Linked DNA regions of Homo sapiens. The protein of the gene in region 1 binds, or shares a complex with, the protein of each later gene. Each region holds a gene or a part of one and is shown on either strand. Other genes may lie near its edges. The genes, in order: ACVR2A and INHBA.

Region 1 (15,660 bases):
GAAAAGTGCTACAATAATCAAGTAACAGAAAATGATACATAAGCTAGATACTGGCAGCACTGACACCACAGCTCAAGTCTACCAACCTCTACGACCACATTCTTGATCACTATCCATATGAAGTTTCCAATTCTTTCCCTTAGGTCCACCACTCTAACAGTTCAAAAAATCCAATCTCAGAGACAAAAACATATTTCCTTTAAGTCCCTTTATTAAAACAAAGCCTGACCTCTAGATGCACTGGGTATACAAAAGTGACTAACAAGAAATCTAGGTGGAGAATGACAGAAAGTCACTTGCTATCTACAGTAGTTTTCTTACCTTCTTGATTTCTCCTCCTCCTCCTCCTTCCTCTATACACTATTCCTGGAATTTTCATGTTCAATAGTCAATTTGAAATCAATGTTCTGTCTAGACATGACTATTTTACAATCTAACAGAATTAAATCTACCACAGAGGAAGTCTAATGTGGTCCTATCAGCAGCAATAAATATACTCTTGGTTCTAGTCAAATTTTGGCTTAAACAGAGATGATAAATGAATAATAAGATGAGCGAAACTTTTTCTGAAGCAGCAAAGAGTTAAGGAAAACCTGAATATTAAAAAAGAGAATAAGAGCAATCTAAAGTTCAAGCCATTTGATTCTAAGAGAGTAACACTATTCCCAAGAGGGTGTGCGAGGTAGTCCAGAAACCAGTAAATGAAAAAACAGTGGAAAAGACTATCTGGTCAATTCTCAAGCATTCTAAATTCAATCTGTTTTCATTAAAACTACGGGTAAGCCCTCTGGAGTCACCCATGATGCTAAGCCACAACTGGGTTCCACAAGCAAGCAGTATAAGGAAGTACAGAAGGGTCAGGGGAAGAAAAGGGAGTAGACAAAGAAGGGAGGAAAATGGAAAGGGAACAATAATGAAAGGGAATGGAAAAAACAATGAGTTACAGAGCAGTGAGCAAAAAGCTAAGGCATACCAGTGACCCCTAGTATCAAATGTTGCCAACCTTACCTATAATCTGAGACAACATGGCAACTGGCAACTTAACAGACCATGAAAACACAAATTTAAATCATTGGACTCATGAAATATCAAAGATGAGAAAATCATAGTAGCACTTTAAAAAGTCAAAATGCAACAAAATAAAGTCTTGGAATCTAAAGAAACAATTTAGAGATTACTAAAATCTCATTTGGTTTAGTTGTGCTTCTCTTAAGAACAGTGAGTCTGGTGGACCCAAAAGGCGAAAATGTCAGTATCAGAGAGAAGGGTATGGAGAGGTGTGTTACAAAGACACTGTGAGGCTCATTTGGACACCATTTGTGGGAATGACTTCAGAATTTTCCTCTCTATGGTATAATGCTCCTTAATTTGCTAAGAGTTTCACTGTAATTCTTATCTTGGTTGGCTAGGTTAACTCCCTTAAAACCAGAGTTCAAAACAAGGTAAGCATTTTATTAATTATGGTCAAGATTTAGCCTTAAAAAGGGAAACGATCTGCAATAGATCATAAAATATTACTTACTGTATCATGAATTAGTCTAACGGTAACCAAAACCCAGCTAGTGATTCTCAAGATAATTATGTAATTAAGAGATTAGGTTAAAAGTTTCTTGAAATTAAAGTTAGCTAGACAAAAGAAATATCTTTTTTAAAAAAACAGAATTTCTACCTTGAAACTATTCAGGGAACATGTAATAGTGAACATATTTCAGGCAACATGTTACACACACACACGAATACCGCCATAAGGCAGCCCAATGATGTCAGTAAAAATAAAGGCAAATATCCTTAAAGATCATATCATGGCAAAGAAAATCCTGGATCTAAAGCAAATATAATTAAACTTGATACCTTAACCAATCATTCATTATGTCCAGGAACATGCAGTCTTCATGAGCACTCTATCAAAATCGGTGATAGGAGAGTTTATCCATAAGTCATTGGAATATTTTATTATAGTATAAAATATTATACTATACTGGTGAATTCTCAAGCATTTCATCAAGGATGAAAGAATGTGCGTATCTATAGTCTGTTTCTCTAATTTAATCATATTCTAATTTAAAAGATAATGAAAAGATAAAAATCTTTCAATACAACGTTACCTGGAGATCATCAATACCATGTACTTGTAAAATTTAGATTACTAACTTTAGGGGGAAGAGAGCAGAGCCCTTTTACTAATAAACTACTGCTTTTAAAATTTAAGAGTTTAGAACTGAGTTTTTCCTTTTTTTTTAATTTGTATTTTAGGTTTGGGGGTACATGTGAAGGTCTGTTACATGGGTAAACTCGTATAATGGGGTTTGCTGTGCAGATTACTTCATTACCCAGGTATTAAGTCCAGTACCCAATAGTTATCTTTTCTGCTCATCTACCTCCTCCCACCCTCCATCCTTGAGTAGACCCCAGTGTCTGCTGTTCTGTTCTTTGTTTTCATGTTTTCTCATCATTTTGCTCCTACTTATAGGAACATGTGGTATTTGGTTTTCTTAGAACAGGGTTTTTTGACCTCTACACTACTGACATATTGAGCCAGCTAACTCTTTGTTGTGGAAGGCTGTACCATGTATTTTAGGACGATTAGAAGCATCCCTGCCCTCTACCCAACTAGATGCCAGTAGCACACCCCGTCCCCTGTTGTGACAACCAAAAATGTCTCCAAATGTCCCATGGATGGGGATCTGGGGAAGTAGGGAGGGGGACTCACCCCAGCTTGAGAACTGTTGGCTTAGATCATAAACAGGAAAAAAAAATAGAAAATGAATGGAGGGAGAATTTTGTTTCATTTTGTTTCTAGTCTCCATGTTTCAATGTATTATATTTGAATTTGACCACAGACACCATTTATAAGAGATTCTGCCTTTTAGAAAACAAAGTATTTATCATCCATCACTTGTTAATCAAAGTTCAAAAGAATCCCAAAAGATTCTCTGTAATGCTAACTCCCCCTCCAACCACACATACATTCACACATACACAGTACTGCCTAGCTGAACTGAAGAAAACATAATTACCATATTTCCATTTCCTCTTTCATCAAATACATTGACCATACTGCTCCAGCTCCCACAAAATCCAAAGGAATTCTCAACTTACTTCTATGCAACTCAAATACCACAATAGCTGCATAACTCTAGATAGGATAAATCTAAGTACTAAAGCAAGTATTAAAGTCATTCTCATACTTCAACAAACTGTGGGGAAAGACACAAATAAACCACAATGCTATAAAAAGAAAACTAAGATTTATGTTTTGAAACAGAATCTGAGAAAGTATGAGAGGAATGAAAAAATTCAAAATCAAAGGTAATCTGAAGGCACTCCAGGATAGGGGCAAAATTTAAAATGTTTCCCCTGGAATGAGAGAGAGGAGGAAATTATACACTTGGCCATATCCTACAGGAATAGTCTGCATAATCAGTCTCCAGAATACATACCATGGGATGGAAACTGAAAAATCAGAGTCCACGAAATAGTAAACATCCCTCCTAAACACCTGGAACAAAACTGTTCCTTACTATTGTTTCCCATTTTGATTTTTAAAAAAAATCAAATATCTAGAAATGAAAAACTGACAACCTGAGAATTTTTAAAATTCTCATAAAAATAGTCACCTCATGCTTCCAACATGTCAGATCACACATTTTGTAGAAAAATCAATTAGTTGGAGAAACATAATAATCCTTTTTTAGAGTGCATCTGATCCATAACAAAAGGCTTTTAAAAATCAGACATTTTAAGTACTCAAATTGTTCATGTATAAATATGGATTAAGGTCTTTATGATTATTTCAATTATCTTCAACAGAATCACATATTTTAGTTCAACTGGGAATGTTCATCTTAAAAAGCCTATGCAACAACATAATATTAGTTTAATATAAGTGGAATATCTATATGCCCTACAGCAACAAAATCACTTTATTTCAAAATTATAGCTATTAACCTCCTGGCCCACTGAAAATAATCCTGGCCCAATGAAAATAATCCCACAAGAAACTAATGCTCAATTATTTTTACTACCAAACCAAGCAGAAGAAGCTGTAAGATCTGTAGCGACAGCCTGCTTTTCAAGAAGTAATACCTTGAGACTGCTCAAGAATAACCTCCTTCATCAATTAGTGTGACTCAGGTGGGTTTGAGAGGGAATAATGTCCACAATTCCTTGGTCAGTGGCCATGATGCCCCTCCTCCTCAAGGGCAAGAGATCAGAACAAGGGATTTGAACAAGAGGAGTTCACCAGCCACAACATATAGAAGCAGAGGAAAAAAGAGTACTACTGGAAAGATAAAAACTACATGGTTAAGTCATGTCACAAAAGCAAGAGGTTTAATGTTATCAAGGCCTTCATTCATTTCAGACACACCATTGTTTAGCTTCCTTCCCAAACCGTGCACAAAAAGAACTGTCAGCCTGCCTTAAGCATGTTCCTTCTTCCATTTAAACAGACATGATTCTTTTGGTTAATCTCTGGCAATGATCGCCATTTCACAACACATTCAGCCCACCCGGAACTGATCAATACCACTACAGACATAAGACTAGACTTTATCCATTTATTAACCACAAGGAAATGTACCATTCAGCAAAATTCTATACATTACAAAAGATTATATTTAAAGGGGGGTGGGGAAGACGGACACAAACACACAAACACACACACACACACCCCACAGAGGTACACAAAGAAGACTACCACCCTTTAATTTTCCTGTGGCAAACGAGATAAAGACATGGCCATGAAACCTGTCAATTCGCCCCCGTTTCCAAGAGTCCCCCGTAATTCTATGCCACAAGCTTGTAACTGAATATTAAATTTTACAATAAATAGATCCAATGAGACTTATTTAAAATGTTTCATCTATTGAACTAACTCTCCTGTTATGTACATCTGCACACCTTTCAGCTAGATGCTGTATTTATTTATAGAATTTCAAATACAAAAGACTAGATAGTTTTTCCAACCACTGGTTGCAACCATAGAACGTCCTCACAAAATCAAAATTTCCAATATAAAATGGCCCGTTTATTCCCCCAACCTTGAGCTAAAACCTATTTTATGAGTGTACTATATTTAACAAAAACAATTTCACATGGGTTGTTCTAAACCGAAAACAATGCTTCAATACAAAGCGTTTAAAATAAGTATTCCGTAGGTAAGCAAAATCTATGCCCCAAAAGAGCACACAAATGGTGGTTGAACGCCAGCACATTACCAATACCAAGCGGCATACCTCTTCTGCACTGGGTTATAGTTAATACTCCAACAACAACTACAACTATTTTTAACACTGCTGGACGCTGAAGTTGAAGAAAACGTGAGGGGAGACCCAGATTAAATTGCTGATAGGATGTATTGTTTCCCACAGCCAAAATTAAGCAGCAACTGGCTTGATCTATGTCGTGATATTCACCGGTGAAGCACTAATTAAACGATGACAAAAAGCAACCCTTGTTTTGGAGGAGCCCACACTAAATACTCCTTTCAGATCTCAACCTTTGCATAAATTGTCACTTGTGGTATTTGCGGCTTAATTGCAACCCAACCAGCGCTGTCATCCAGTGTTATGGCCACAAAACATGACTTTCTCACTTCCACAACAACACAGCACTCACTCTTATCAGCTCGCCGACCCAACTCAAAAAGAGAAAAATGCATGGAGGTTTCCAGATCACAATCAGACCTGGGGGCGGGGGGGGGGGGCGGTGGCAGCCGAGGGGCGCAGGGAGTGGGCAACCTCCCCAGGCTCCACTGGACTCTCCGACTCAACACCAGCCGCGGCCCCCAGCAGCGGCCGCCGCGGCCGCAGGAGCAGCCCCACCGCGCCGCGCTCCCTGCACCTACCTGAAGAACAGGAGATAAGAAAGACGGCAAACGCCAACTTTGCAGCAGCTCCCATTTTCCCGAGGCGCCGGGGAATCCGGAGGAAGTTCTCGCTAGATATCCAGTTCCCTGGGTCTTCCTCGGAGACAAACCTCCTGGTGTAAAATCAACCGTCATAAAACATATTCGGAAGCCCAGACCAAAAAAAAAAAAAAAAAAAAAAAAAAACGCTCACTGGGTTAAAAAAAAAAAAGAAAAAAAAGAGCACAACGATAAAAAATAAAATGCACCACGGGGGAAAAACCGCCACACACACGCACAACACACAAAACCAAACAACGAAAAGCCAACAACAACAAAAGCGGGTTTAAATCACTGTCAAAATCACTGTCAGCTCCGCTCGCCTCTCCCGTCTCTCGGAACAAAACGCCAGGCTGAGGCGACGAAGAGGCGGCGGCGGCAGCGGCGTCCGCTGCCGCCCGGACAGTCTGGGAACTGACTGGGTCCGATGTCCGGACCGACCTTCAACCCAGACACCTAAAGTCCGAGGACCACTGGCGGCCGAGCTCGCGGCGGTGGCGGCGAGGCGGCTGCGGCGCGGGGAAGGGGCGGCGGGCGGCAGCGGCGGCGGCGGTGCAGGCGGCGGCCAAGTTCTGGTCCAGGCTCTGGCTCCAGCTCCGGGCTCCGGGCTCGGCCGCGTTTTCGGTCTCCTGGCCTCCGCCGGGCTCCGCCCCCCAAACTTCCGGTTCCGGCCCGAAGCTGGAAGCCAGGCGCAGCGGAGGAACGCTCGGCGGCAGCGGCGGCGGCGGCGGCGGCGGCAGCGGCGGCCGGGCGCAGCGCGCGTGCCGGGCCGGGAGCGCGAGGAGATTGTCGGGGAAGCGAGGCGGGAGCGGGGGAGGGGTGAGAGAGCGAGGGCGGGGCGGAGTGGAGGGCGAGGAGGCGGGGCGGACGGAGGCTCGATACCGCGAGGCCTCGGCGTCCGGCCTGCTTGGGCTAGAGATACCGCGACAAAGGGGCGCGGGCGCCTCAAAGTCCCTAAGCTGTGGCTGGGCTGTGGCCGGGCGAGTAGATGCGGGCTAGGCCGGGCACGACCCGTTTCCAAATCGCGTCCGACGGGCCTGTCTGGAGCGCCCACCCAAAGGGTCAGGAGAAGCCCAAGAGGAAGAGGACCCCGAGGTGGGGCGAGTGGCCAGGGACTTCTCCAAGGGGCGTCTGCGGCGCCCAGTCTTTCCTCTGGGGGGACGCCTCGTCCGCTCTGATACCGAGGAGTCGGTGGAAGGCGGACGTGGGAGCTGTTTCGCCGCGCCCGCCGAGCTGCCCAGGCGAGCTCGCGACGCGCGAGCTGGTGTGTGCGCCCCCAGACTTAGCACTGCGTCCCACCGCTGCAGCTTCTGCACACGCGTGCTGTCTTGGTGACTAGAAAAGAAAAAGAAAAAACTCACGGAGGAAGGGCTGTCCACCCGCTCAGGATATTCACGCCATTTATCACGATGCGCAACTTGAATCCATTCCCGCCGTTCCTTTTACACACAAAGCATTGTGTTGAAAACTGTTTTGCACGTAATAGGTGCGCAAATACTTGTTTACTGCGCTTTGAAGAAAAAAATGAGGATTTCGAACGACATATTTGATGATCAGACAAGTGATTACTTGTCAAAATTTTAGCTATTTAAGGGCCTGTTTTTACCCCTTAATCCATGTCGATTGCTTACAAGCTGGTGTGCTAGGCACGGAATGGGATCCAACAGGTAAAAATAGGATGGATCCCTACCTCAAGTAGCTTTTAGTATTTGCTGTATTCAGTTGGTTGCAGAATACAAACTAGAGACTATTGAAGGTAGTTGCTCTGTCATTTACCACACTTTAGTGAGCTTCGTGAAGGTAGAGATCTTGATTTTTTCCTTATTTTATTCCAGCACCCAGAAGTATCAACTAGCACATAAGTGCTTAATAAATAATTGTATAAATGACTAAGGGATGACTGCCTTTCTCTTAAATACAGTCTCTGTTAATGTACTCTACAAAGTTTTGGTTTTTAATAAAACAACTGTATAATATGGCTAATTCATGTTTCATTTGTGGTTTACTGATTCCCACCTTTTCCCACAAAGCCAAGTCTTCTCACTTATATTTACAGCAGTTTACTTCCTCTAAATTACTCTGTATTTCTGTCTATTAAGTTCATCCTGTAATTATCTGCCCATTTCTACAACTTATCAGGGTTATTAATAATCAACGTGGCTCTTTAAATCTCTCCAAGATTGCCAGTTCTCAAATCGTGATGCTCAGAATTTGACTGATGTTGGAACAGTTACAAAGTCCCAAGTCGGTATTAAAGGTGTCTGAATGATCTCATGTAGTTCTCCTATCTTTATGAGTTGGTCAAAGGAATATGTGTAAGCCTTCCATTTTCTGGTTGAATTAAGAGTTGTACTAACGGTTCTGGAATGGAAGAGTATATTTTACTCTAGAAACACTTGAAGTTCATTAGAGAATTTGATGTCAGTTAGGGTCAGGCCCCACTCTTGTCTTATCTGTGCATCACTTCAGTATTTCTTTAATTGTGAAGCCTGAGCAAGTGGAATAACTGGAATAGCGAGTAATACAACTGAAACTTGTAAATATATTCCTTATCTTACCAACTAAATTTGCCATTATAAGAACGAGAGCATGAAAATTATTTTTCTGTAGTACTAAAGAGAAGCAGCCAGTCTTCACGAGGACATTCCTTTCTAACAAAGACAGAAAACCCCATGGGAAAAGTATTAACAACCAGTAACGCAGCTATTCTGTTCCTAAATGTGTTCAATTACCCCTTCGTTTTTTTTTTTAATTCAAAAATAATGTAACCTAAAAAGACAAGGAATTGTGACTAATTTCCACCGGAGCTTCAAAGCTTAAAAAGAGGTAGCTACAGCTAACCCCATTGCCCTTCTTTCCTCCTTGTTTTCTAGAATCACTTTTTAAAATCCATAAATCCAACAACCACTTCCTAACACATTGCAAGGTGTAAAACCTGGTTTGGGAAGGAAAATGAGAAAGGAGAGGAAAGGAAAAGGAAACATGAATTCTAATCGACCAGAGCATCGGGCATTATGAGATAAACATCTTTAGCTAACTTCATTCACTTCCCAGCCCCAAGACCTAGCCTTATGGCCACTCCAATGCTAGAATTTGAAGTTCAGAGTCCTGCCAAGTTCAATTGAACTGAAAATTATTCCCAGGTGGAAGAATCTTGAGAAGCCAGTTCAATCTAGAGTGTTGGCTGGATGAGGAGGTAGAGGTAAATAAGTGACACAGACTGCTTCCAGAATAAAAGATTTCTTTTTGTGTTAACAAAGTCATGGCTCAAAAAGATGTGGAGAAGTTTAAATCTTCAGTTCTGAAGTAGAGCTGGAAATGAACTGGGTTATAATTGAACTTGCGTTTGGACCCACCAACAGACACTTCAGCAACACACGTCTAATCTCTTTTCCTTCATCTTCAGGAAGATGACTGAAAACCTTTGGAGTATGGAGGATGTTAAGTTCCCCTTAAATGAAGGACTTAGAAGCTTTCGTGCTGCTTTCTAGCTACTATAAAAATCTGTGTTCAGATGACATGGGCATTCTTGAAGTGGCACAAGTAACGAATTTCTTATATGCCAACGCTGTAAGGCATAATGCATGGGGAATAAATTTGGTAACTTGGTGAGTCCAAGGAAGGGAGAAATGATCGATGTATCTTTTATAAATATCCCCCTCTCCTTAAGTGCCCAAGGTGGGAAGAAAATTCTCTACATCCTAGCTTTTGCTGCTATTTATTCCTCCCCTTCTACTTAACGTCCATCTGTATAGCATTGCACTGTGCCAATGGGGTCAAAAAGACATATCGAGGAGGATAAGAATGTGGGAATGGATAAGGGGAAAAGTGTTAAGACAAAAGATTTTAGGTGAAGGAGAAAGTGAGTTAGAAGAGTTAAGAGAAACTGTGATGTAATATAAATCTCAACATCCCAACATCCCAAAGGTAATATTTGACTTTTTCTCCCCACTATCGCCCCCTTCAAAATTCAAGAAATGTGTAGGAAACAAAACTAATAGGCATAATTTGGCAAGGATTCTTTCCCACCCTCCACTTTAAATTCATTACCACAGGTGCTTAATTTTCTTGAACAGGTGCTAGGACTCAATTCCTCCCCAGGCTGATAACCACAGTGCCTACGCTAACACTACTGAGCAACTGTCAGAACCCACACCCCCAAGTGGTTCCAAATTATGGCGTTGCTGATGCTCCCCCATTGGTGGGTAGGAGGTGGGAAAGGTGTTGGTTTGGACAATAACTAGTAAGGGTGATGGCACTGGTTTTTAGTGTCCTAGGACTAGGATACTAAATACTCTGCAGGAGGTTGGGCATTTAGCATACCCGACAAAGAATAGTTCAGGATTTGAGATCTATTACCTTAAACCAATATCAAATGGAAGGATGATGGAGTAAACCTGCACTACTCAAAGTGTAGGTCTTAAGCCAGTGCTGGTCTCAAAAGATTTGTTACTAATATTTAATGAGATATGTATGGACACAGACAACAATTGTTCACAAAGTTTTGTAGAAACTTGATAATTACGTCTGTTGAAACTATAAAATAATTGAGCTTATATTTTATTGTTTTAATTTCAAGTGTTTTGTTTTTTGTTTTTATTTTTGAGATAGGTCTCACTCTGTCACCTAGGCTGGTGTGCAGTGATGCAATTACCACTCACTGCAGTCTTGACTTCCCAGGCTCTGGTGATCCTCCCACTTTAGCTTCCTGAGTAACTGGGACTACAGACGTGTGCCAAACATACCGGGCTAATTTTTTTTTTTCCATTTTTTTGTAGAGACGGCGTTTTGCCATATTGCCCAGGCTGGTCTTGAACTCCTGAGCTCAAGTGATCTGCCTACCTCGGCCTCCCAAAGTGCTCAGATTATAGGTGTGAGCCACTGTGCCCGGCCTCAAGTTCTTAGTAATTCAATTTTATTGTACTTTGACTTCACAAAGGTCTCACAGATTGGAAATTCATCATAGAGGATCTAAGAATGGATTTCCTACTGGAGTAGAAAGCAGACTATATACACAATTCTTTCTCAAAAAAAAATGGCCTTCATCCATTTTGACAAGTGCTTAAAATCTCGAATAAAGCTTTGATGTTATAGTCCTGAAATTTTCTATAATACAAGTCCACATAAGGGTCAGTCATTTTCATTACACTCTCTGTGGCATTCATCTATTCAACAAGTAATTATCAGATACAGAATTTGTGCTAGATTTTGGTTGTACAAGTGTCGAATGAAATGGATATAGTCTCCACCATCACTGAGCTGACAGTATCACGAAGAAGACAGGAAAACAGCCAGTAAACAAGTAATTCCCAAATGGAAAGGATTATTTATAAAAGCAGACAGAATGCTAAGATAAAGAGCAATGGGATAGTATAGGAAGAGGGGAACTATTTAGAGAAAATGATTCAGGAAGGACTTACAAAGGATGTGACATTTCAACTGAAACCTGGAAGATGAAAAGGAGATAACCATGAAAGAAGCTAGTGAAGAAGAAACAGTACAGATGATGTATTTAAGAAACTGAAAGAAGGCTCTCATGGCAATTAGGAGAGTAGTATGAATAAGGAGAGAGAGGAAAATAGGCTCCAGTCCATGCAACAGCCTATGGACCAAAGTAAGGTCCTTGGATTTTATTCAAAGTGAAGTAGCAATCCATTGGAGGGTTTTAAGTCAGGGAGTTGTGTGGTCTGGCTTATGTTTAGTAGATCACTCTGGCTGTTACATGAAGAACGAGTTGCAAGAGGTTACCAAAGCAAGCGGAGAAATTAGTTAGAAGGGCATTATAGTAAGTCAGACATGAGACGATAATATTGTAAACTAATACAGAAGGAAGTGGGCAGATTTAAGATATATTCTGGAAGACATGCTGATGGATTGGATGACTCCTACTTTTTTTCTTGAGCAAATGAGTAGAGGTCATGTCATTTATTGATATGGGGAAGATTTAAAGGGAAGAGATATTATAGGGCAGAAATTGGAAAGATGAATAGTGAAAATACTTAGTTTTAAAAATGTTATATTTAAGATGCCTGTGAGACACTCAAATGGAGATAGTGTAACATAAGCAAGTGGATCTACGTGACTGAAGTTTGGAGCAACATGCAATGCTACAGATATAAATCTGGGAGTTGTCACCATGCAAATGGTATTTAAGGCCATAGAAATGAATGAGAGTATCTAAATAGGGAGGAGAGAGAGAGAGAAGAATAAATGTAGCAATCAAGTGGAGGATTAAAAGCCAGGAAAGGGGATAAAGAAGTGGCAGGCAGAGATTAAATAAAAACCAGGGGCGACGGATGTCACATGTGGGCGTGTTTCACAAAAGGAAGATAGGGTCAGTGTTGAATCCGATAGAGACATACAGCAAAATGAAAAACAAAAATGTAAGCCATTGGATGTGGCATCATAGAAGGAATTAACATCCTTGAAAGTAGTTTTAGCAGAAGCTAGATGGAAATATTTGAAGTCAATGGTAAATGAAAATTTAGAAACATCAAAAATAACAAAGCCTTGGCCCGGCGCAGTGGCTCATGCCTGTAATCCCAGCACTTTGGGAACCTAAGGTGGGCAGATCACCTGAGGTTGGGAGTTCAAGACCAGCCTGGCCAACATGGCGAAACCCTGTCTCTACTAAAAATACAAAAATTAGCCAGGCGTGGCAGTGCGTGCCTGAAGTCCCAGCTACTCAGGAGGCTGAGACACAAGAATTGCTTGAACCTGGGAGGCGGAGGCTGCAGTGACCTGAGATCGCACCACTGCACTCCAGCCTGGACGATAGTGCAAGACTCAGTCTCAAAAATAAATAAATAAAAACAAAATACAAAAATAACAAAGCCTTAAAGACATTTGGCTATTTAAAAAAATCAAATAAATGGGGTGGTGGCTAAAGGGAAATGCACAATCAAGAGAGGATTTTATTTTGTTTCTCTTTTCAGAGGAGACATCATAAATTATATATGTAAACTCATAGGTATGGTGCCATAGGAGGAAAGATTGAAAATGCAGAAGAAAGGAAAACTGAATGGGCAAAATACTTGTGAAGGCAAGAAAGGACAAGCTTCAGAACATGAGAGAGTTAGGTTGGCCTTTGAGAAGAGAGTGGTTGTTCTCTTCCTCTTCCTCTTCTTCCTCCTCCTCCTCCTTTTGAGGCAGGAAGGGCAAGCAGAAGCAGATGAGTTTGCAGAAGCAGATGAGTTTACAGAACCGAACATTGGAGCATAATGGCAATCCCAGCTGAGGGCTCTTCTTTTCTCTGACATGTAAAGCAAGGTTTTCACCTTAAAGTGAAAGGGGCATGATGAAAAGGTATGAAAGAGTCCTAAGTGAGACTGGAGAGAGAGGCTTTATAGTGGAATTGCCAGGGTTGAGTGCCCATTTGAGATTGGTGACTCCAGTCTACCCAGCTGTGTGATTATTTTCTGCAACGTAGAGGTGTTGGCAGGCACGGAGAAGGCAGATGATTGAGTTCTTACATGGCTGGATTTATTAAGTAAGTGATTTTGAGAAAGTGAGGGGTAAAGAAGTTATGGGAATTATATGGGAGCCATTGGAACAATGACTCACAGAATTTGAGTTGGACAAAAAGAAAGGACAGTCTAGAAGAGGCTATGTGGATAGAAAGAATTGATAGGAGAATGGATTAGATCAGGAGTCCCCAAGTCCCACATCGCAGACCTATACTAGTCTGTGGCCTGTTAAGAACCAGGCCGCACAGCAGGAGGTGAGCATCAGGCCAGCAAGCATTACCACCTGCGCTCCACCTCCGGGGATCAGCAGCAGCATTAGATTCTCGCCAGCCCTATTGTGAACTGCATATGCAAGGGATCTAAATTGTGCACTCCTAATGAGACTCTAATGCCTGATAACCTGAGTCAAACAGTTTCATCCTGAAATTATCCAATACCCCCATGGAAAAATTGTTTTCCACAAAACCGGTCCCTGGTGTCAAAAAGGTTGGGGACCGCTGGATTAGAGAACTGACATCAGTAGGAGGATCCATTGCTTCTTGGCAGATATTTAAGCAAGTGAGCTAGAAGGATAGGAGCTATGGCCAGAGACTAGAAATTAACAAGGTTTTGGAGAGGAATTGTGTCTGATAATGACAATGGCCAGGGAGTTACCATAGTAGTGATAGAAAAAATGGTCACTGGTGATGAGGTGGTCCAAGAATTGGGATGTCAAAGTATCCAGGGTGTTGGATGAGTCAATCTGTGCTGAGATAAAATTATCATAACATTTTAGGAATAATTATTATTTAATACTCTATTTCTAAAGAATTATAAATAAGAAAAGAAAAATAATAGGTGTAAGTTTAATATTATTTGGTATGAATGTAAATTTTTGCACTTTGGTGACAGAGAATGATATAGAGTACTTTTTACCATTTTTTTTTTTTAAAGCCTGTAAGGAAAGAGCGATTGTTTTTTCTTTTCTTTTTTTTTTTTTTTAATTTTTGTTTTCTTAGGCTTAACTACACTGGATTTGCCCACCTGTTTAAGAATGCAAATTAAACAAAACACTTAACTGCACTTTATTGTGCTTCATTTTAACTTAAATCAGAAGAATTTTAATCAAAGCCATACTGAAGCTTTAGGGGAAACTAAATTGTAGGAATGTTTGCAGTGATTTTAACTGGTCAAAATACATTATGTGCATTTCTTTATATTCAAAAGCAGTTATTATTAGCTACTCCTGAAATGAAGTAATAATTTTATCCTATTTTCTGCTGAACAAATACAAAGGTTAAATGGCTTGCCCAGGGGCACAAATTGAATCCGTAGCAGAAATGGGATTATAACTCCAAACTACTGACTCAAAGCTTAGTCCAATGAGCCATGCTGTTTCTCAAGTAGTAAGCATATTAATTGTTCCTTCAAGCAGGAAAAAGAACTCTAAATGGAGCATGTCCCATCCAGAAGACCTATGCAACACAGTAAAAAGACCTACTTCTTTTACTTAGTTAAAACAAACAAACAACAACAACAACAAAAAACAAAAACAAACAAACAAATAAAACCACCCCCCGGCCACAGAACTGTTAAACTTGCCTTTTTGTTAAAGAGGAAATAACTGGTATCAATTTGAAAAGTAATACAAAATAACTGTTACAGAAAAAGCACTAAACTTTATAGTTATAAAACCAAAAGAATGTCTGATATTGTTTTTCAATGCTATCATTGGACCTGGGTTACACAGAATGGTGAATTTGCTGTATCAGATAAACACCAAGATAATTCAGGCATCCAATTTACCCTTTGTTATTTAGGCTAATCATAGAAAAATAGCAATTGTACAAATTTTATTTATTATTTGAATAAATGCCTTCCTGACTCATTTCTCTTATTTCAAGTCCACCCAGGTACATAATTGTTTTTCACTCAATTTTGACTCTGTAATTTTAAAACCACAAATGAGAAGATTATTGAAAGTAGATTCTTTTTAAATTGCAAATTAAAAGTAAATAATTCTATTTCCGCTTCTGGCTATGATAGAATACTTTGTATTACATTAACTCTCCTATTATGAACAACTATTTTAAAATAATTTATTCAACAACTATTTGAAGCCACTAGAGAGGAACTAAGGAAGACAGTACTGGGGGGACAAAGAACCCAGAGAGGAGAGAAGTATATTGAATTGAGCCCCACATTCACCTAAGCTTTTCACTTTGGTACTTGCAGATACATGGCACGAGTAATAGAGGCTAAGAAGAAAGTAGCAGTCTGGGCTTATGTAGTTTCACTGGGTTAGGG
Region 2 (14,617 bases), on another chromosome or scaffold:
TGGAATGTTCAGGTCTGCAGGAATCACTTTCCCTCGTCGTTACGCTTCTTTTCTGGGTCTCTCAGAAATTTCCATAGAAGAAGGATATGGAAATTTGAATGCCACCATGAGAGTTTTCTCTAGTCACATGATTAACAGTCTGTGCTGGTGATGTGTCCTTTGGTCAACACTCTTCTACCTGGGCAGCTGCTGCAAATCAGGAGTGCCTCTCCATCAGGAAAAGACAGAAACAAAACAGACTCTACCCGATGACTTTGCCTTAATCGCAACAAACAGGTTCATGGAAATGGCCAAATTCACAACTATAACTTAGGAGGTTGACTCAGCCACTAACTAATTGTACCTGAATCAGACTTTGTTTCTTAAAAAGTTATGTGCTGTTCTTCATGGTACCAGTTAGGGGGCAGCAGATAGCCTGGCATCTTTTGTTGTCTAAAGGAAGCTTCCAATTAGGAGATCCTAAAGTTTCTATGTATTATTTTATTTATCATGTGACATGGTCTGACAGTTCCATCCTGCGCCAGCTGTTCATTTTGGAAGCCAAACCTCTCACCTAGTAGAGTGCTTATAATTCACTACTGAGCAAAGGTGAACCCAAATAATAAAGTATCCTATATAATTACTGCACTCTGCATCAGCCATTTCAGTTTCATCATTATCTAAATATTACGAAGCCCTAGCCTTCTCTTTTGGTCTATCATTCTGTCTCTCACACACGCCTAAGTAAACTTTATTTTGACTCCTTAAAATACCCTCAGGATGAGAATGCAAGTAATGGGATGAGTGTAGGCATCTATAAAATGGCTTCTGCAAAGACCTCAAGATGCTAGTTTAAGAGGATGAGGCATAGCCAGCCTGTGGTAAAAACATTTGCTTTCCTGATGCATGCAACATTGTGGAGATGCTACTTTTGTGTGTGGGGTGTGTGTGTTTGTGTGTGTGTGTGTGTGTGTGTGTGTAGCTACTGAACACTGAGAATTTTGTCTATTCAAAAAGAAACAACAGAAACATGATGCTGAGCTCTTGAGGATCCTTGAACCAATGTCTTCTTTTGGTTTTGATTACGTACCTATTTTAGTTTCCAGAAGCTCCTCATGGGATAAAGAGTAGTAGGTGTGGAAACCAGATCACAGAGAGGTAGGCTGACTTGTAACTTTCCAGCCAGGGACAGAGCCCCTGTGTGTAGTAGGGTCTTTTCAGTACCAGTCTACCCTGGTGGCTTGTCACAGAGCATTTGCCCATCTTTCCAAGGCTCTACAAAATAGGATGCAGGGAATTCAGGTCAGCCAATAAAGCTTTTTTAAAAAAGGAAGAGAAATAATACCAGTAAGCAACATTGACTGTGTACCAGCACATTCTATGCGGCTCACACGACTAACTCAGCTATCCCTGACAACAATCCTATCTATGAATATTATTATCCATATTTATTATACTAATTGTGGAACCAAGTCATTTGCCCAGGAGTTTGAAAGTGGTGAATCCTAAATTTGAACCCAGTCAGTCTGACTGCAGGACCCACACATTCAACCACTACCTTTTGCCTCATCTTCAAATGGTGTTTTGCATACTTCAGAGCACTGAGGTGGCTGTGCCCTTGGTCACTGGGAGGCCATACTTGGCTGCACCCATTTGGACTGTCAGGATCTTCTCCAGTCAGAGGCCACCGCCAGGGCCAGAGACAATGGAGAATTATTTAGTATCCAGTGGTTCTAGAAACTGCCTCTGTTTCAAGCCCAGGAAGAAGGCTTTCTGAGGAGGACATTCCTTCTTGGGACAAGGACCCTTAGTGAGATTTGGCCTTTATGCACCTCCATCTGAAAAGCTAAGCTTTTCTCTGGGAATTTGAATTGAAGGTTAGGGATGATTGCTCAGATGGGGAAAGTGTGAAATGGTAATCACTTTCATATGACACTCGAGAAATGTTATAATAAAGCTGAGTAAATTGGAGCATGAGTTAGCCGGTCCTTTGCCTAATGATGTCACTCACTTTGTGCTTCCTCCAGCCTATGATTAATAAAAGAGGGGTTATGACAGTAACTCACTCCTAGTGGGCAGCAGTGACGTCAGCAGCAGCTGAGCAAACTGACTACATTTAGTTGTGCGTGTGTATGTGGGCATTTTTTTTTCCTGTGACTAACATGAAGATAACAGCATCTAATAAAACAAAAGCTCCTTGAAATTTGGGAAACTTATTGGGTGAACTCTTTTCTACAGGGAGCACCATTTTAATTATTCTCAGCTCATAGTTAAGTGATGTTGGAGTTGGCCAAAATTACCTTGTTGGCTTTCTGCCCCTGTTTCATTAAGGGATCACAAATGAACCCCTGGCCTTTTGGAGAGAGGTTTTCTGGAGTGTTTTTTTCCTTCTACTATAGAGGCTCCTCCCTCATTCATTATACTCTTCCATCTTTTAAGAGGAACTCAATGAGTAGAAGAGGGATTGTAGCCATAAGTTATTTTTTGAAAGTTTAAAGCTGGTTGTAGAATTCAGTGATTCCATTTTAAACTTTGTAAGAATATTGTGCTTAATTACAGTTTGCTTTTCCAATCTAAAGTGACAGAAGTCCTACTTGCTATTTCACCTTTGCAAACTTGACCTTCCTAAAATTAGAGTGGGCCACCTGGAAATATTTACTCACCTAGCTGAGCTGCTGCCAGTGTCCACGCGAGTCCACAGGACTCGTGAACAGCAGCACTCAGCCCATGCCTTGGAGCTGCTCCCACAGAGGGCAGAACCTTTGGACTCTATTAGGACACGAGGGAGGCAGCAATTCACTGATTTAAAAAAAATACACACAGAACTGCCCCCAGGCTTTTCTGTCGGGCTTTTTCCCTCCAAGCAGCGATTTGGGAACAGGTTGTGGGGGGATCTTTGTGGACAGGCAAAAGTGGATGCAAATCAAGATTGCTGCTCTCTTATCAGTCCAATGGAATCTACGTGCTAAACCACCATGTCTTCAAGTCACCAATGGAACTTATTACCCAAGGGGATCCAGGTGAGAAAAATGATTACAACAATCTGTTCCGCATTCCTTGGGGGGTATTTTTCAATAATCTTCTGAGGCAATAGGAAGATAAATTGTTGAAGCAGATGTTTCCTGATTGGGTTAGAACTGAGTCATGATAAACAATTTTGAAATATATATTGGTCAGGAAGAATGTTGAGGGCATATTTCTTCAGGTTGAGTTAGTCTGGGTTTTTTTCAATATATGTTTTTATATAGTGGTTGTAAATGAGTATTTCTTTCAATATTGAATTTTTTTTACATGTACTACATGGTTACTTCTTGGGAAGAAGTCCAGGCATTTCTGAATCATTTGAAAGTTGATTGAGGCCTTTGGTTCCAAAATGACCATTTACCTGAGGAGACAGTGATTCACACGTTGGAAGAGATGATACGGCGTCAGAGTGTCTAAGACATTCCCCTCATGGCTCCCTTCATCTTAAAATGATCTCTGACCTACCCTTTCCTTTCTGGATGACCCATTTTACTCAGGAGCTAAGTGATGAACCAGGGAAGTAAGCACTCACTGTATGGACAACAGGATTTCAGTTCTAAGCTAGTTTTATCCAGGCAACTTCCCTCTTGTGCATTTCACCAATACTTGTTGATTACTCTTACGATTTTCCATGAGATGGAATCCTTCACAATAGTTTCCCCAGTCCTCACAGGAGAGCAACACCTGGAAGGGCATGGCCTTCCTTTAATAGACACACCACTTCCTTTTACAAAGGAAGTTTGGAGAATATAATGTTGCTTGCAACAGCCATTAGGATTTAGCAAAACACTGTTTTATCTCTTTGGATATTGATTGTATGTCATTCCCCTAAGGTATTAAACAAATAAAATCAAGCTACATCATATTTGTTTGCTCTAGGAGAAAGGCATGGTTATCCTACGTTTGTGAATTTTACTTCAGGGAATTCTCTATTGCATGGATTTATCTGATACTGAATTGCTAAAATGAACAACTCAATCCTTTATTCATTTACTCTTTTGCATGAGTCTCTTGTCTCCTAACAACTTGGGTGTGGGCCAGCCCATCTCATTTTGTTGCTGGTCACCAAGATTCTGCTTTAGGTCAGAACAAAAAGCCAGCAGGAAAATGTATTGAGACCATACGTGAAAGTTGGTTGGAACAACGAGGTTGCCCAAGAGGAACATTGTATCTGTAGTCTCCAGTAATCAGAAAACATAAGATGCAAAAGGAAGCAGAATCACTTGAATTATTAGTATTTTGTAGAGCTGCAATTTTTTTTTTTTTTTGGTTTCCAAGGCCTCTTGGAGATGGATAGGGAGAAGGTTGAGTGAAACTTTACAATTATAATATGAAATCAGGGTATCTCAACTGCAGAACAATGAACACTGTAGGCCAGGTAATTTCTTGTTGTTGGGGGCTGTCCTGTGCATGGTAGGATATTCAGCAGCATCCCTGGGCCCTACCCACTAATGATCAGTAGAACCTCCCTCCCAGCTGTAACAACCAAAATGTCTTCAAACATGGCCAGATGTTCCCCGGGGAGCAAAATCGCCCCGGTTGAGAACCACTGCTGTAGAATGAAGAGTAATAGGTTACTTACTGGGTTTTCTTCCTCCTTCTCTTTTCCCTAATTGTTTTAGTTCTAGTATCTGGGTTCCCTTGGTTCAGAAAGCAGCATTTCCAAATAATCTAAAAACAGAGTGCTCTTACATAGCAGAAGGCCTTGTGGGATATTCTGGTGGTTCTGAAAGAAATGTGAAGCTTACGAGTCAAGTTTCAGATTAACCATTTCTGACCCTGTTGTTCTCAATGAATTTCAGGGGACTTTTTAATGCTTTCCTCTCTCTCTCTGTTTCGATCTATTCATTCATTGATTTAACTTAAAAGCAAAACAGCTTCCCAGTTCAATTTTGAACGTGAAACGCTGATTCTCCTTTGTCCCAAATCTTTCTACCTAACATTCAGCCCAAGCTATGTACAGGCTGCGGCTGTCCAGGAAACAGGCAGGGTTTGCCAATCCCATGTTCGATTTAAACCATTTGATGAGACCCTTCATCACAGACTCTCGCAGTCTCCCTGCAGCAAATAGTACTCTGGATCCTGCCCACGTTCTCTGGATTCTGAGCTGCCTCTGGAGGGAGTCACCCCTCACCAACAAGGCCAGGTTTTCCGGCCTGAGCCCCAGAATAACACATCAGCTGCTGGGAACACCTCGAGTCCTTTTGATTTCTCTCCATAGTCACGTTTTATGTTCGGTTTCCCAGACGGGATGAACCAGAAATCATGCTTTTTTGGAAACAGATTTTTTCATAGGAAGGAAAGAAAACACCGTGACTCGTCAGCACTCTTGTCCGTGCCTCTGAACCCCCAGCCTTGTGTCATTTCAGCTGAATCAGAGAACAACATCCCAGTCACCTGCTTGGGGCGTTCGCGTCTCCTGGCTTGTATTTTTGACTGAATAACAGCAATCCGTGAGCAGCAGCTAAAATAATAGAGCCCTGAAAAATGCCCCAACCCCCACTCCCTTTTCTGGTCCTGTCTCCTTGCTCCAGGAGTAGTGAGGAAAGAGACCAGTTAATAGCGTGGATGAAAGCTGAAGGACAGACGGTTTGAGAAGAAAAGTGAACATTCTTGCTTCCTCATCTATGCCAACTTTGAACAGGGACAGCTGCTGCCACAGGTAAACACCACTATAGGGTTGGCCGTGGCCCTAAGCTAGGTGTCACCGTAAGCCACGGGCCAGCACACGAACGCTGGCCTCTCCCCCATTCGCACAATTGAGCTCTTATCCTTAAACGAACTTTGTTTTTTGACCAGCTCACTAATTGTGATTGAAAACACCAGCTCCCCAGCAATGCACACGCATTGGAGTTAGCAGCAGCAAGACAGGCCCTAATTGCTCCATTTACATAAAAGTAGAAACATACAACTTCTAAATATAAATCTCTGGCACATCGTTCCTTTTGCAATTACAGTAAAATAAGGTACCACAGTTTCCCTCCCGGCTCCTTCTCGCAGCAAGCTGCTCCACCGGGTTCGCTAGTGGCTGCTCCTCGAGGCGAGAACAGAGCCATGCAAATGCTCCAGCGTGGAGTTGGGTTTGTGAAGTCGCCAGTAAATCAGGCCGCCTCCACTAGGTGAATAACGCGGTGGCAGCGGGCCACTTTGCTAGTGCAGTCGCTGGAGGACCGCGCTCCGCACTCAGAAGGGGGCAGTTGGCTGGTGCGCGAGCGCTCCCGGCTCGCCTCTGTCCGCGGGGAGCCAGCCGGCCCCTCCGCAGGTCCCGCTCCCTGACATTTGCTGTGGTTTCACTCCCTGGCACTGAGGGCTGGGTTCAGAGATTCCCAGCTGCACTCACTGAACAGTGATTTTTTTCCCCTCCCTGAATTCTTTAGCTGCCAAAAGGGGGGAAAAAATCAAGAGCTGCTCTTAAAAGAAGTTGCCCTTGCTGGTGCTCAGGGTAAAAATAGAGGCTGCCGCTTAGACCGGCTTGGCCCTGGCTCCAGGCATCCTGCGAGCTGGGCTCGAGCAGCGGCCGCGTTCCGGCGTGATCCCTGGAAGCTGCCAGCAGGTGCTGCTCAAGGTACAGTAGCAGGGCCGAGAAGCCGGGACCCGAAGGGCCTGGGGTGCGGGGAAGCTCCGGGGGAGGGGGAAGTGAAAGAGAAACCAAACCAAGGAAGGAGAAGGAGATTCTGGTCAGGACTGGGCTGACCAGCTTGTGCCCCGGGCCCTTGAGTTCCGCAGGGAAAAGCTGATTCCCAGTCTAGAATATTCCACAGAAGCTATTTTAACCTGCCTGCTTCCTCCACCACCCCCACCTTGATTTGCACCGAGGGAGGAGGCATTGCCACTGTGGTGCAGGTGGTTGCAGAGGGGTTGCAGCACGGCTGGTAGGCTGGCCTGGCAGGTGGGCACTCGGTGGCATCAGATGGCCAGCGGAGTTTCAGAGTCACACTTGTGTTGTGGCTCCTCTGGTCAGAGAGCTGCAGATTCCTGTGACACCCATGTTTAAGAACAGCCACCAGGCTTCTCAGAAATAGTATCACTTATTATTATCTGACAGCTGCACTTGACCCCCACAGGTTCATATCATGGATCCCATTTTATAGATGGGAACACTGAGGCCTGAGTTTACACGGTGAGTGAGCAGAGGAACTGGGATCTGATCTGGGTTTGTTTTGTGCCCCCCACCCCCACCCCACGTCACCTACACACACACACACACACACACACACACACACACACACACACACACTACTTTGTGTGGAGGCGGAGGGGATGTTTTCAGGACACTAGGGTTCATGTGTGGGTCAGGGGTGAGTTTAGATGCCCTGAAGGTCATTGACTCCACTAATTCTCAGCAAAAAGGGTGGAGAAGTTTCTTTCTTATAAAGGGTTTGAGTTCACCCAGTGCTAAGCTGAGGGGCAGGTTTGGAGTTCACCATCATTAATCCTATTTCTGTCTTCGCCACTCAGATTCACTCTCTTCCTCTACAACCTAATGATTTTTTTCCTACTTCATTTCTGCATATGCAGTTCTTAGAATACTCCTTCCCCCCACCCCCATGCAGCTCAGCACCCACACTTTCTCTGTATCTAGCCAAGAGAGACCCTTTTACACAGAAAACTTCTGGTGTCCTAATGGAACCTGCTTAAGCCACACATCAGGAGGCCAGAGCCTCTATATTTTGCTTGTGGGCACAGTGAAAAGTTTATTTTATGCATGTTAAATCCTGCATACAAAACAACATATCTGGTCATATGGCTCTCATTAGCTCCCAATTTTGCACATTTTATCCAACTTGTCATGAGAACTGGGCTTATGCTTCAACTGTAGTCCTTCAAACAACCCTTCACCGTTCTTGTCAGAGGACCCCTTCCTCCTGTGTTATTTACCAGACTTGCCAACACCCCTCCCCCACAAAAAAAGCCTGACCAGCTTTACCCCTATTTCAAGGAGTGTTCACTTCTTTTCATTAATCTGCTGTTATATTTGTAACAATTTAGAAATTATAGGAGTTGAAGTTCTGGTAAAAAAGAATGATGCATGAGGGTTTTTGTTGTTGTTGTTGTTGTGTGTGTGTGTGTGTGTGTGTGTGTTTGGTTAGTTAGAATGAGATTCTAAAGACCTGGGAAGGATACTTATGAAGTTCATTTAAAGAGAATTACTATTTCCAAAGTTCTTGATTTATGAAGCAGGCATTCAATTTCAAGATGTAAAATAATAGTGTAAGTTGGTTGGGGTCGGGGGAGACCATCATCATATGATTATACAGATTTTCCCAATTTTTTTCCTCAATGAAATAGCTTATTTTAAAAATATAAAATTAGAATCCCTATAAAGAACACTACCAATTTTCTTTCCTGAAAGAAACAATAAAATACTTTGTAAATAGAAGCAACTTCATGAAGTAACAGATGTTTTATGTAAAGACATAAAACTGAACCTGAATATAACGAGACGTGTGTGCGAGTAGTAAAAGTTGAAAGTTGGACACACTCATTGAGACATATCTATTTGATTCCAATGTTTTTCTAAAAGGTAGAGTAATCCTAGCCAGAGGTTTCACTGGCTCAGTGCATCACCCAGTAGTGTCTCAGAAGCCAGGAAGGGCTTTCCATTAGATAATGAATTATGAAATGTCTCACACTGGAAAAACCAGTCATCCGCTGATGTCATGCTGATTCCAACCAATCCCAAACAAAGCCCCAGCCCTCCTCTGTTTCAGTGGTACCAATGTGTGGTGTACAAATAAGTAGTACAGTATAAAACTTCACAGTGCCAATACCATGAAGAGGAGCTCAGACAGCTCTTACCACATGATACAAGAGCCGGCTGGTGGAAGAGTGGGGACCAGAAAGGTAATGCTTTTTAACTCTTACTTCTGAGCTCTTTACACATTCAAAGATAGGAAAGCTAGGAGGAATTTTACAACTAATTGGCATTTCCAATGTGCATTGTGATGTGTACCTTTTTATATTATTCAGGCAGGTTAATACAGCTTTTAATAGTCCTAGAGCATGCAAATAGATTATATGTTTATACAAGCCACTCAGCACATATATACAAGTACATATGCCAAAGAGAAAGCTATTTTTAAGAGTTACATTCGCAAACAGTAAATTCAGGGAACACACACATACTCAGATGCAGAGAGAATCCAAATATTGATAAGTTGCACTTATCTAAATGCTGCTATTAGGACTCCTGAGTTGTTTAGAGCCATTAAACTTTTGGTTGTATTTCAGACTTTCTTGTAAAACTTAATTGAACTGCAAAACATTTTGGGTACTGTATATGTGACTCCAAATAGGTGGATGATGTTAAGTATTATAGCACAAAGATTTTTTATAAAACCATTGTAACACAAATGTCCCCTGCCTCCCCCATTCTCTTTCACCATCCCCGTAAAAAATATGAGGCTTTTTAGGCAATGTTGACAAAGTTTTAACAATAATGGTGGAGTAATTGATGTTTCTGGAGCTGAAACCCCAAAGGTGTTAGGTTACTTGTAACAGAAAAAGTCTTACAAATAGTTGTTTTGGAAAAGGGGACAGTATATATAATTCAGAAAGCATTGTTAACCTGTGCAAACTGTAATTATAACTTAGTGTCACAATTTTCTTGCCCTCTTCCCCTTGCACTCAGATCTTATCTTGTAGTAATGATATTTATTAACTCTTTCCACCTAAACTGCATTGCTTGACTGTAATGCTATGAACACACTAGGTGTCAGATATAAGCTGAGTGTATCTTCAGAAACCAAGAGGGCTTATGTGTGGGAAAGAAACCGAGAGGGAAGGAACGCTTTAACAGATGGACCCCTTAAAGATTCTTCTGCAAGATAAAAGCAATAAGACAGAAAATGAAAAAGAGGGGAGGGGGAAGAATTTTTTTTAAGCCTTAGAAAGGCATTGTTAAAAAATTCACATTTTTCTTTTTCTGTGCACACTAAAATCCATGATGATTTCATCTGCACTGTTCCTTTGAGGGAAAAAGAAGCAGTCAAGGAGGCTGTCTATGAATGCACTGGTCGGGACAGGCTTGGGGCAAGCTGAAAAAACTACCACATGACAGAGAAAAATAATTTGCCAATATATTTTAGAGAGTCTTTTCCCATAGGACCAGTTATTCAAGTCATACGAGTGCACTCTTTTTATAAAAGGATGTGGGAAAGGCCAAGAGAATTTTGCATTTTATCTGTGAAGTCCGGCGAGTGGTGGTAGGCTGTAATGTGTGAGAGTGAGTGGGTCCCCGGCAGAAGGGGGCAGCTGAACGCGACGGGGAGAAAGCGCTTCTGGAACTTGGGCTTGTGACAGGCTGCCTGCCCTCTGGTCCTTCAGTGCCCTGCTGCATTTCACAGTTGGGAAGAGTGGAGTGTATTATATGACCCCAAACAAAAGTTCCATTGCGCTCTCCTCAGATTGCCTGCCAGTGTTGATGACCTGAACATTTAAATATGAATGAATTGGGGGAAAGGACCATCTCCCCTGGATCCCATCAGGCCAGAACAATCCTCTGTTACCCCTGAGTCCCTCTTCCCTGACCTCCACTACCTGTCCACTGGACCTCCCTGCACCCTCTGCCCCACCACGTGGCCAGGTGGGCGTTCTACCACCTAGGGCTGTGGCTTGGCTGGGTGGAGGGGCGGTGGGAACACTTTTTCAATCAATTCATCCCTATTGATTGAGACACTGTGTTTGTTTGGGGTTTCTTTTCTCCCCTCCAAAAAAGGAAGAAGGTGAAACCAGGAGACTGGGCAGAGAAAGAAAAAAAAATAGTGAACAAAATTAGGATAATTTATTTTAGAAGAGAAAGTAGAACCCCCGAAAATGGTGATATTTGAAGAGAGGTGTCTGTGAGGAAGCTAAGAGCAGAAGGAGAGCAGCCTGTCAGAAAACGGGCTGTCCCTCCCTCCCTAATCACAGCCCTACTCACAGCAAACTCCCTCCCTCTCCATTCACTCACTTACTTAGGGCCAATCCTTTCTCTCTCTCTCTCTCTCTCTCTCTCTCTCTCTCTCTTCCTTTCCCTCTCTCCCTCTCCCCCTCCCTTCCCTCCCTCTCTCCCTCTCTCTCCCCCTTCTTTCCCTCTCTCTTCTCTCCCCCTCTCTCCTCTCTCTCTGTCTCTGTCTCCCTCCCATCCTCTCTCTCTGTCTCTGTCTGTCTCCCCGCCACCCTGTCTCTCCCTCCCTCCCTGTCTCCCTCCCTCCCTCCCTCCTTCCTTCTCTCTTACTCGGAGACAGTCAGAACTCTCCTCCCTGACAGCCACAAACCTACAGCACTGACTGCATTCAGAGAGGAACCTGCAAACAAAACTTCACAGAAAACTTTTTGTTCTTGTTCCAGAGAATTTGCTGAAGAGGAGAAGGAAAAAAAAAACACCAAAAAAAAAAATAAAAAAATCCACACACACAAAAAAACCTGCGCGTGAGGGGGGAGGAAAAGCAGGGCCTTTTAAAAAGGCAATCACAACAACTTTTGCTGCCAGGATGCCCTTGCTTTGGCTGAGAGGATTTCTGTTGGCAAGTTGCTGGATTATAGTGAGGAGTTCCCCCACCCCAGGATCCGAGGGGCACAGCGCGGCCCCCGACTGTCCGTCCTGTGCGCTGGCCGCCCTCCCAAAGGATGTACCCAACTCTCAGCCAGAGATGGTGGAGGCCGTCAAGAAGCACATTTTAAACATGCTGCACTTGAAGAAGAGACCCGATGTCACCCAGCCGGTACCCAAGGCGGCGCTTCTGAACGCGATCAGAAAGCTTCATGTGGGCAAAGTCGGGGAGAACGGGTATGTGGAGATAGAGGATGACATTGGAAGGAGGGCAGAAATGAATGAACTTATGGAGCAGACCTCGGAGATCATCACGTTTGCCGAGTCAGGTTGGTGCTGGCATTGGCAGGGGGTGGGGAGGGGTGGGGGGTGGGAGGGTAAAATATATTTCTTTGACAGTCCCAGGAGGAACTTCTTTTCCCTTCAGCTGGAAACTGCCTGGGAAGGTTATTAGTTATTAGGTGATGGTAGCGGACTAGCCGACGGAGGGCAGGCAGGGGAGGGGGAGAGGACTTTACAGAAAAGGAATTCTCGGTCGAGCTCTGCCTGGAGATGACTGGCTTACACTTACTAAACCCAGCGGGTCACACAGAGAGGAAGCTCGGGGCCAATGTTGAGCTGGAAGGCAGACTGTGAGGGGCTGCCTTGCCCTGCCTGTGAAACCAGATCTGAGCAGCCGGAGGAAAGCCGCGGCATTTTCGGGTGCTAGGGGAGCAGAGGAGGCTTCCGGACCCCATCCAAGTTTTTATTGAGGGTAGAGGGGTGAATGTACCAGGATTGGAGTGGAATGGCACAGATGAAGTCACTCTCTTAAAACAAACCTTCCCCTTTAAAAGTCCAATCTGGGGCCACATTGGAGAAGCAGGGCATATTTATGAGTGACAGTCATTTTTACCTTTAGAAAATGTCTATAAGTGCACAGGCACCACATTCAAGACAGGGAAGAGCTACTTTGGGGGACAGTTGTCATTGAACCAGCAGTTACTTTTGGGACACTGACTTTTGCTCTCTGAAAGAAAAAAAAATAAATAAAACAACCAGTTTTGTTCTTTCTAAAGTTACTAAGAGCTCTCTGCCAAGGAACGCAACCTTGACAAAGTACTCTCAGATACTACGCTGAACTCACTCAATCCTTAAGAGGAAGAACTTTAATAAATAGATTCTAATCGTTGGCCCAGGACCACACTAACCTGTTGCTGAATAGCAATACCTGTCAAAAGTATGGGCCCATGGACTTGGAGCCAGGCTATTTTTATAGTTAAGTGACACAGATCCTTTGCATGCCTGCAAGCCCATGCACGTCAGGCACACAGATGTGTTAATACCGTGTTACTTTCATGGTAATGCCAGGCTAAAGAATTGCATCCTTTGCCAACTCCATTTGAAAGGAATGCCATTGTTTTGTTTGGTAGAGCATATGGCCAGTAAAGTATGTGCAGGGACTCCCAGCATTTTTGTTTAAAAGTTTGCCGCAGCAGTATAAACAATTAAGGCAACACTCAGAATTTCCAATCTGAAAACCTGTTGACTCAGATGTTCTGTTTTCAAGAAAACCATGAAAGACCAGGGCATCTTTCCGGGGGTGCAGATAGCCTGCTGGCTGTGTGGCTTCCCCTTGCAGGAGAAGCCCTGGTGTCCTACAAGCTTCCCAGTTTGGCTCTCTCACCAGAAGCCTCTCTCACTTAGGGAAGATCCTACTTTCTTTCCCTAAAGCTCTTTCTTAACCCAGCCCCAAAAGGCATGATCATTAGGACTTTATCTTCTGGAGCTTTTTGAGGAAGAAAGCTAGGTTGGAACTTTTCAAGTTGACACCCATTTTTTTTTCTCAACTTTTCATGGTGGGAAAAGGTAAAAAAGAAAATATTTACAATATTTGGCTGTGCATGTGAAACAGATTTCAGTGGTCTAGAGGGTTGCTTCCTGTCTTTGTATACCAACCTCCACACATGATGGATTCAATGACAGCTCGTATCCAGTTGCCTTTAACCATGTCATATGACTAAGTATACCTATGCCTTTGACCACTTTTAACCGCACTACCGTTACTAGCAATATGCCCCTCTTTCTGACTTACTGGACTTGTATAGCAAATCACTCTCTTAGCATTTAGAGATTTGGCAGTGAAAAAATTTGACCATTTACATTCTTTCTTATGTGTGGTCTTCCTTTCTGTGACAGTCTTCTCTCAGTTGTATGAGATCTTGTCATTTTTTTACTTCTCAGTTAGGTGTTTAGTTTGAAAAAAAATGAGCGACTTTTGAAAAAGCGATTCGTTGGACGTTCACATTGAGTCAAGTTTAAGATTTGTAATGGGAAACTCCTGGTTGACTTTACAACTTGACTTTGGATTCTTAGAAAACACTTATTACAATTGCTTATTTTTCTCTGAGGGATTTCACACATCAACTTCAAGTTGATTTAATGTAATTTCATGTATTTAATGATTGCTGTATGGACTGTCTACTCTTCAAGCAGAAAACCACGTGAGCATTTTGCTGCTGATTTTGCTAGTCCAGAAAAGACATTTATCATCCAAATGATTGTAGCAAATATATGAACATGAATAGAAAAGACCTATGTCTTGTTGCTTTTGGAATAATTCAACTTTAATAACATTCCAACTATGTGGAATGTCAAGAGTTTTTGGAGAATAGAAAAAGGAATGCATTTTTCTTTCCCTTATAACCATTTTGTGCAGCATAGAATCCAGACATTGTCACCCATGAGCATGCCACAGATGCAGACCCATAGCAGCCCCTTTCAACCTCAAGATTCTTCAATTTGAGGCTACGTTTAATTTTTGCCTTTTCTCTCCTTGATTGTTGGATAAAGCCAAGGCCTGGCTACAGAAGTAGAGAGCCTCCAAAAGCTGAAGTGCTGAGGACTCTTTTAACTGAGTTTGTCCCATCCTGTTTAGGTAGAAAGTGCTCAATTTTTGTAAAGTTGATGCGAGTTGTTATTGACTAAACAGCAGGGAATCACTCTAAGGCTCTCTGAAATGTATCCCAACAAACAAAAATTATTTTATTTTTATATATGTCACATCACCCAAGATTTCTCACCAAGGTTAGTGTGTTCTTT

What was found.
Region 2: the proteins of ACVR2A (region 1) and INHBA are in contact, whole or in part, in a crystal structure (PDB 7U5P), measured with the Homo sapiens proteins. Residues at the interface, in NP_001265508.1 of Homo sapiens: Asn36, Asp53, Lys56, Phe61, Thr63, Lys65, Val74, Lys75, Cys78, Trp79, Leu80, Asp81, Asp82, Ile83, Asn84, Val100, Phe102; in NP_002183.1 of Homo sapiens: Ile340, Ala341, Pro342, His346, Arg397, Pro398, Met399, Ser400, Met401, Leu402, Tyr404, Asn409, Ile410, Ile411, Lys412, Asp414, Glu421.

What each region holds. Positions count from the first base shown.
Region 1 is NC_000002.12:147,835,396-147,851,055, reverse strand, and holds the start of ACVR2A (activin receptor type-2A isoform 1 precursor), read right to left. Parts: upstream 6,028-15,660; 5' UTR 5,904-6,027; coding exon 5,849-5,903; intron 1-5,848. UniProt on the Homo sapiens protein: On ligand binding, forms a receptor complex consisting of two type II and two type I transmembrane serine/threonine kinases.
Region 2 is NC_000007.14:41,697,235-41,711,851, reverse strand, and holds the start of INHBA (inhibin beta A chain preproprotein), read left to right. Parts: upstream 1-8,761; 5' UTR 8,762-8,847; intron 8,848-11,334; 5' UTR 11,335-11,477; coding exon 11,478-11,865; intron 11,866-14,617. UniProt on the Homo sapiens protein: Inhibins/activins are involved in regulating a number of diverse functions such as hypothalamic and pituitary hormone secretion, gonadal hormone secretion, germ cell development and maturation, erythroid differentiation, insulin secretion, nerve cell survival, embryonic axial development or bone growth, depending on their subunit composition.